Linked DNA regions of Homo sapiens: regions 1 and 3 are each linked to region 2. Evidence: fine-mapped expression QTL. A gene starts in region 2. Each other region holds a variant in brackets. All regions are shown on one strand. Distances are from middle to middle. Region 1 overlaps SOS2 (SOS Ras/Rho guanine nucleotide exchange factor 2). Region 2 holds the start of NEMF (nuclear export mediator factor). Region 3 overlaps LOC107984701 (a long non-coding RNA gene).

Evidence for each region. PIP is the estimated chance that this variant, and not a neighbour inherited with it, causes the effect.
Region 1: its variant is the best candidate, but not a certain one, in a credible set for the expression of NEMF in unexposed skin (GTEx, PIP 0.68).
Region 3: its variant is the best candidate, but not a certain one, in a credible set for the expression of NEMF in whole blood (TOPMed, PIP 0.81).

Annotation. Positions count from the first base shown.
Region 1 is chr14:50,132,411-50,135,174 of GRCh38, reverse strand. SOS2 (SOS Ras/Rho guanine nucleotide exchange factor 2) reads left to right here. Exons shown (of 23, transcript NM_006939.4): 19 at 936-1,052. Among named protein-coding and RNA genes, the nearest start is that of VCPKMT, 17 kb to the right of the region's middle. The variant G/TG (reference allele first, on the strand shown) is at 1,195.
Region 2 is chr14:49,851,187-49,853,950 of GRCh38, reverse strand. It overlaps NEMF (nuclear export mediator factor), which reads left to right and starts at 1,163. Exons shown (of 33, transcript NM_004713.6): 1 at 1,163-1,256; 2 at 2,076-2,144; 3 at 2,286-2,388. The coding sequence starts at 1,198. It also overlaps RN7SL3. RefSeq lists a silencer at 54-113 and an enhancer at 917-1,156.
Region 3 is chr14:49,542,949-49,545,712 of GRCh38, reverse strand. It overlaps LOC107984701 (a long non-coding RNA gene), which reads left to right. Exons shown (of 3, transcript XR_007064154.1): 2 at 2,537-2,634. Among named protein-coding and RNA genes, the nearest start is that of RPS29, 42 kb to the left of the region's middle. The variant A/G (reference allele first, on the strand shown) is at 1,546.

The sequences.
Region 1 (2,764 bases), 280 kb before region 2:
ATAAAAACATTTTTTATACTAGAAGTTAGCACAGATAGGTTTAACTTTATAATCATTCTTTCTTTCTTTCTTTCTTTCTTTCTTTTTTTTTTTTTTTTTTTTTGAGACAGTCTCGCTCTTGTTGCCCAGGCTGGAGTGCAATGGTGTGATCTCGGTTCACCTCAACCTCCGCCTGCCAGGTTCAATTGATTCTCCTGTCTCAGCCTCCTGAGTAGCTGGGATTACAGGCATGCGCCACCACGCCCAGCTAATTTTGTATTTTTAGTAGAGATGGGGTTTCTTCATGTTGGTCAGGCTGGTCTCAAACTCCCGACCTCAGGTGATCCACCCACCTCAGCCTCCCAAAGTGGTGGGATTACAGGCGTGAGCCACCGTGCTCGGCCTATAATCATTCTTGACATTACTTTTAAAGTAATTTAAATGACTACTTTTAAAGTAAAAGGAATTTCCAGAGTAATTATAAATGATCAAGAATGATCTATAAATTGGATTAACAGACCTTAATCTAATTTATCTCCACTTTTTTTCTGATTATCAAAACTTCATTGTGGATTATAACCATAGCTTTGTTCTAAACACTTTTGGTAGCTTACTAGTGATGATCATTTGTTACAATGAGTAGGAGTAAAGTTTCCTAAGGAATAAGTAGTGCTACTGCTGAGCCATTAAAATGATAATAAATGAAAACTCATATTCTTAATAGAACTTTAAGACTAGAATATAACTTCCACAGAAATTATATAATCTTATTCAGAAGTAAAGAGATTGGAATAAGCAACACTTGTGAACTTTTCACATATTGTGGGCTCTTAATGTGTTATTTTTTAGCATTAAATAAGTAATTTTCAGCAAAAAATTTTAATGAGATCTTATTTTAATAAGATCTAAAATATATACTTACTATATATGCACTTGTGTTATTTGTTTAATTCCAGAGATTCTTTGAAAACCTTAACCCCATGGGAAGTGCATCTGAAAAAGAGTTTACAGATTATTTGTTCAACAAGTCACTAGAAATTGAACCTCGAAACTGCAAACAGCCACCTCGATTTGTAAGTCTTTTATAATTTCGGGAACAAGTGTTCTGTTTTTTAAAATATTATTTTCAATGTTTAACAACCTGTTATCTTAAAAATGTAATTGAATGGCTGTTCCTAGGTGTTTTGTTTGCAGTAATATACTATTTCTAAAACT[G/TG]GGGGGGGAAATGTCAGCCTTTTGATAAAATCTGGTTTATGCCTTATCTTGGTACTACTTATTTATGTGTCTACTTTTGATCCCTCCTAGAATAATACAAAAAGGTGTGAGAAAGTGAGAACTTAATAGGTAGCTGAATGGAACAGAAAAAAAAAGAAAAGACCTGGGAAGGAGTAAGCAAATGTATTTTGGTTCTTGTGACTTGATATGACTTCTGCCATTAGGGCTCCATGGTCCATAGTTGCCTCTGGAACCCATCTCTGTCACTAGAATTTGATGCTACAATTTCCAGTTACTGCAGGAGTTTGCAGTGGCAACAGAAGTAGTAGAAGATGAACTCTAAGTAGCTAAAAGTGAAGCAAGATATAGAAGGAAGTAAAAACACAAACCAACTTTAGGTGAAGCAGGAAGTCAGGTAGTTTCATGCTATCTCATCTTCACAATTGTGTGATATATGAGGGGACTTCAAAAAGTTCATAGAGACCGGGCATGGTGGCTCACACCTGTAATCCCAGCACATTGGGAGACCAAGGCAGGCAGATTGCTTCAGTTCAAGAGTTTGAGACCAGCTTGGGCAACATGGCAAAACCCTGTCTCTACCAAAAATACAAAAAAATTAGCCAGGCATGGTGGTGCACGCCTGGGGGCGGAGGTTGCAGTGAGCCAAGATCACTCCACTTCACTCCAACCTGGGTGACAGAGCAAGACCCCGTCTCAAAAAAAAAAAAAAAGAAAAAAGAAAAAAGAAAAAAAGTTCATGGAAAAATGGAATGAAAAGATAAATTTTTTTGATGGAATTAAAAGATAAACATAAAAACATAAACTTTATTTCCCAACATAAGCTTCCTCAAGTTCAGGACACTTTTGTAAGCGCTAATACCAACCATTTTGTCCATCCCTAAAAAACTAAAGATCCTGGGAATTTAACCATATCATTGCAGTCTCTTTTACATTATTAACTGAAGAAAAATGGTTGCCCTTTAATTTTTTTTTTTATAATTAGGAAACAAAAAAAGTCAGAAGGAGCCAAGTCAAGACTGTAAGTGGATGCCTAATGATCTGCCATCAAAACTCTCAAAGAATTGCTCTGGTTTAATGAGAGGGATGAGCAGGAGCATTGTTGTGGTGGAGAAGGTCTCCTTGGTGAAGCTTTCCTGGTTGTTTTTCTGCAAAAGCTTTGGCTAACTTTCTCAAAACAGTCCCATAGTAAGCAGATGTTATTGTTCTTTGACCCTCTACAAACTCAACAAGAAAAATGCCTTGAGCGTCCTAAAAAACTGTTGCCATGACCTTTCTTTTTGTTTTTGTTTTGTTTTTTTTGAGACAGAGTCTCGCTCTGTCACCCAGGCTGGAGTACAGTGGTGCAATCTCAACTCACTGTAACCTCCACCTCCCAGGTTCAAGCAATTCTACTGCCTCAGCCTCCCACGTAACTGGGATAACAGGTGTGTGCCACTACGCCCGGCTAATTTTTGTATTTTTAATAGAGATGAGGTTTCACCATGTTGGCCAGGCATGTCTTGTACTCCTGACCTCAAGTGATCCACCTGCCTCGACCTCCCAAAGTGAT
Region 2 (2,764 bases):
CAAGCCTCTAGCAGCTCTTTTGCAGCGACGCCGAGCGCCGGGCGCGGTGGCGCGTGCCTGTAGTCCCAGCTACTCGGGAGGCTGAGGCTGGAGGATCCCTTGAGTTCAGGAGTTCTGGGCTGTAGTGCGCTATGCCGATCGGGTGTCCGCACTGAGTTCGGCATCAATATGGTGACCTCCCGGGAGCGGGGGACCACCAGGTTGCCTAAGGAGGGGTGAACCGGCCCAGGTCGGAAACGGAGCAGGTCAAAACTCCCGTGCTGATCAGTAGTGGGATTGCGCCTGTGAATAGCCACTGCACTCCAGCCTGGGCAACATAGTGAGACCCTGCCTCTTTTGAGTTCTCACCTTATAAAGTAGCCTTTCTTCCCATGCATCTATCCTAAGACAAAAGAAATGCAGAATTTACATTCTTACAGGACTATTTTCCTCACTACACTGTGAATCCCCCCTCCCACCCCACCCCCATTGGGAATCTTCTTGTTTTTATTTTTATCTTATTTCACCATTATCTAGCTAAACACTTGCACATTCATGCTGCCAAGTGTTTATGGAGCACCGATTGTACACCAGGTACTGCGGTGAGTCTCAGGGGTACCAAGACCGAGGTTCGATGAGAATCCTGTAATCAATTGCAGAATGCTCCTTCCGAGAGCAGGACCCATCAAAATAGGAACTCCGTTTTGAGAGTTCGCCTCGATCGTTGAGGATAATCTTAGAAGGACCGAAGCAGTTCCGTTTCGTTACATTTCAAAATCTTATGTCAAAGTAAGCGCGCAGAAAGGGGTCCTTGCTCTTCTACACTGAGCCCTACGGCCCCCCTGTGGGGAAATACTCCTGATAATCATCTCGAAAATTGTTTCGACCAGCAGGGGTCACTATGAAGGCTGACTTGAGCCCAAGACACAATGGGGCACGGTAACCAGACTGGTCCGTAAGGGTTCCAGGAAGGAATGCAGTTTCAAGAGAACAGTTTGAATCTTTATTCGAATTTGAATTTTGGTACAATGAAGAGAGTCAGCTGCAACTTGACAATCGAAATCTTCAGAAAAGCGACACAAATACGTTCGCCTCGAGGAATATTGGGTCTTCTGCGCGGCCGTAGAGCTCCGCCAAGTGCGCCTGCGCGGAGGAGAAGTGGCGTCGAGTCCGGCCGGGCAGTAGAGGAACTTGCGGTAGTGACCCTCGGGCCTCGCCATGAAGAGCCGCTTTAGCACCATTGACCTCCGCGCCGTACTCGCGGAGCTGAATGCTAGGTACAGTACCCTAAGTGACGAGGCTCGTGTGGGGAGTGCAGGAGGCAGAGGCCGGAGTCCCATGGCGCAAACAGACCAGCTTGATATGTTTCCTTATTTCCTAGTGCGTCTATGGACCTGCCTAGGCCTGAGTGGGCAGGCGTGTGGTGTCTTTCCCGTGACCCTTAGGATACCCCTGGGGGTCCCAGGCACCTCGTGCCCCATCCCCCGCGTCCTCCCAGCTCTCTGGCTTGCCCCGCTAGCGCGAAGCTCTTGCATTGTTGGCCTGGGTTGTCCGGGTTGGGCAGGAAACGTTTGTTAAAACACGAGACGCCAGAGTGGTCGTTTGCTTCAGAGGTTTCCAGACTGGGGGCTTGGTTTCTTGAACACCTCCCTCCCCTCACCCCAGAGAGAGAGAGAGCATCGCGGTTTTAGCTGGATTGAGCAGATTTGGACTGAGATCTGGATTCTAGTCTGGATTCTATTATTCAGCCCTGTGAGCTTTGTCATATTTTCGGGGCCCTCTTTTATCTTTTTTTTTTCTCCCTTGTAATAAATTAATTGGATTATATTTTACTGTATTTCTCCCCCAAAATTGGGTCATTTGGAAGACGCAAGCTATAGTGTGTTGTTCCTAGAGCTGATAGACCACTTCTGTTTTTAAATCGTTACTCTTAAGTTTTGAACTGAATCTCCAAATGGCTTTCAGACTCTGCTCCTCGGCTGACTCCATATCCTTAGAGACTGAGATCCGCTCTTTCGAAGCTTTTATTAAATTATGTGTAGTTTTATGTTTCAGACAATAGTGTAACATGTTACATGTTTCCTTTATCTTTGCAGCTTGCTAGGAATGAGAGTAAACAATGTTTATGATGTGGATAATAAGACATACCTTATTCGTCTTCAAAAGTAAGAACATTTTATAGGCTTATTTTCTCTTTGACAATTAAGTATGAGATTACTGATTTTTTTTAACCTACATTTTAAGCCTGTTTAGCAATTAGCTTTGGCATATACCCTAAAGAAAAATTCGACTTTTTTCTTCTACAGACCGGACTTTAAAGCTACACTTTTACTTGAATCTGGCATACGAATTCATACAACAGAATTTGAGTGGCCTAAGAATATGATGCCGTCTAGTTTTGCCATGAAGGTAAACTTGTTACGCTTGAAGCTAAATTTTAAGAGATTGCTCACTAACAATTAAGTTTTTAATTGGGGTTTCCTTCACTGTTACGAATAAAGTGCAGATAAAATGAAGGTAAAGGGAGTGGTTGACAGATAATGGGTTGAATAAAGTGAATATTTATTAATTGATTTCTCCCCATTACCTTTCACATCCTGTTCTGCTCCAGATCTTCTGTTTCCACAGTCACTATTAGAGTTCAAGCTTTTATCACATTCAGCCTTACAGTTCCTTAACTGTAATTCACTTCTCTGCATCAAAACAATTCTAAATTAGACCAACGTTAATTTTTTTGTTTTTGTTTGTTTGTTTTTTTGTTCGTTTTTGAGAAGGAGTCTCGCTC
Region 3 (2,764 bases), 310 kb after region 2:
ATTTGACACATACCTGTGACCTTGGGAGGCAGACATTATCCTCATGAGACAACTGGAGCCCAGAAAGTTTAGGTCACTTGCCCAGGGTGACTCATTCTATTCTCAGGCCCATGTTCTTTTTCTTTCTCTTTTTTTTTGAGATGGAGTCTCAGTCTATTGCCCAGGCTGGAGTGCAATGGTGTGATCTTGGCTCACTGCAACCTCCGCCTCCCGGGTTTAAGTGATTCTCCTACCTCAGCCTCCCGAGTAGCTGGGATTACAGGTGTGCACCACCACACCCGGCTAATTTTTGTATTTTTAGTGGTGATGGGGTTTCACCACATTAGCCAGGCTGATCTTGCACTCCTGACCTTGTTATCTGCCTGCCTCGGCCTGACCTGAAGCCTATGTTCTTAATCACCAACTGCCTCCCTGTGGGAAAGCGGTGTAGGCCAACTTGGTAGGAGATAAGATCTCCTGGAATTTAAAACACTGGAGAATTTGGTGCCTTAGGAAAGCGAGAAAGTGTTGGTCAGAATGTAAGTATCCCTGGGCTATAGGCAGTCCTGGACTGCACTGGCCCAGGTAATTCAGACCTGACATTTAGAGTTGTGGCACAAGCCCTCGCTGGGCAGGTAGCTCTTTCTCCTGAAAAGAGATAACAGAATGACTCCACCATGGTTTTTTCAAGGGCAGGCCTGAAGCAGTTACTGGGGAGAAATGTCTCCCATATGGAGGAAGGCAGAGAGGGAGTGAAAGGAAATGGAGAGCAGGCTCTGAGAAGGCAGAAATAATAATGTGAACAACAGGAGAGGAAAGGAGGTGGGCGGGTGGGTGAAAGCACAGATATATCGTTATTGTTATAATCAAAGGGAGAGCGGATACTGGAGAGAACATTTCCTATTAATAAAAGATCTAAAATGACGGAGGAAAGGACAGTAGCTGAGAGGCGGCCTTCTTTGAAAAATATGGCCACTAAAAGGAATTCACCTTTCCAATTTGCACTGTACTTTACAGTTTCCCAAGCGCTTTTTCATCTATTATTTATTCTGACATCAGTGCTGTGAAGTATGGCATTATCAACTCTGTTTGACATATAAGGAGGTAGGTTTCAGAAAGGAAAGGTCCTATTTGAGGTCCTGTGACTGGTTAGATAGAGCTGGGACCAGAACTCAAGTCTTAGCCCTGCTGGACTTCACCCCCATCATAATGCCAGGGGGACAAACAGGGTCATCACATAGTAATTCAAACTTCGGGAAAAAAGCTGCAAGAGCTGCCTAGGAAAAGTTGAACATGGTGGAAAATTTCTGGGGAATCTATTAATGTATAATTATGGAAAGTTTATTGAAATTCATCTAGTTAAGATTGAATTTATACAAACACTTTATTAATTTATATTCAGGTGACCAGAAAAAGCGACTCTGAATACAAAGAGTTTGTATTATCTGGTATTCCTTGTTCTAGCTGCAGAAGAGTAAAGATTAATTCTTGATCTTTTTTAATGGTCTGATGATTTGTCTTTGCTCTCTTTCCCCAAGGGAAAAAGTTTCTGTTCACTTGCTCCTT[A/G]ATGATAGCACTTTGCATTTGTTTAATGTTACTCAGTTTCTCTTGGTAGTGTACCCCACAGTAACAGAGACCTCAATGAATTTAAGAATCCAGTTTCCACTGAGCTTGCTATAGTTCATATTTCTTTCTGCTTTTTCTATATTGGCATGCTGACATTTGGAGAAGCGTCAGTTTGCTTCTCCCAACGCCCTTTATTCACACAGATAACTCCATTTCCAGTGTAACCCCTCTTATTCCTAGTCTTGGTATTTTGCCCTTATTCTTTAATCAAACTACTGATATCTGGAATTTTATTGTCTTTCCACATTATTAGTTATTTATTGCTGTGTAACAGATTACCCCAAATTTTATAACAAATTAAAAAAAACATTATCTCATAGTTTTTGTAGGTTGGGAACCAAGACACTGGGTTGACGTCTCTCACGAGGTTGCAGTTAAGCTATTGGGCTGCTATTATCTGAAGGGCTCCAGGATCCATTCCCAGTTCTCTCATGGCTGTTGGCAGGAGGCTTTAGCTCATTGCCATGTGGGCCTTTTTATAGGACTGCTTATGACATGGCTTCCCTCATAGTGAGGGATCCAGGAGAAAGAGGGAGAGAGAGAGTGTGAACAGCAGGTGGAAATCCCAGTCTTTGGACAACCTAATCTTGGAAGTGATATTTCTATCACTTCTTCCATATTCTAATCAATATATGTGACCCAGTAAGTTCAGTCCACACTCAGAGGGAAATTAAACTCTACCTTTTAAGGAGAGGCATATCAAAGAATTTATGGACATATGTTTAAAACAATCACATTAAATAATTATTTACAGTTTTCTGAGACAGGGTCTTGCTCTGTCACCCAGCTGGAGTGCAGTGGCATGATCATGGCTTGCTGCACCCACAACCTCCTTGGCTCAAGCGATTCTCCCACCTCAGCCTCCCTAGTAGCCAGGAGCATAGGTACACACTATGGTGCCCTGCTAATTACAATTTTTTTTCTTTTGTAGAGACAGGATCTTGCCATGTTGCCCGGGCTAGTCTCAAACTCCTGGGCTAAAGTGATCCTCCCACCTCAGCCCCCCAAAGCGCTGGGATTACTACAGAGGTGAGCACTGTGCCCAACAATTATTTACAGTTTTATGACTATGTGCTAGACACTTGCTAGGCTTTAGGGATTTAACAAGGTTCTTGACCTTATAAAAATTTAAGTCCAGAAGCCATGCTATTTTCTTCTA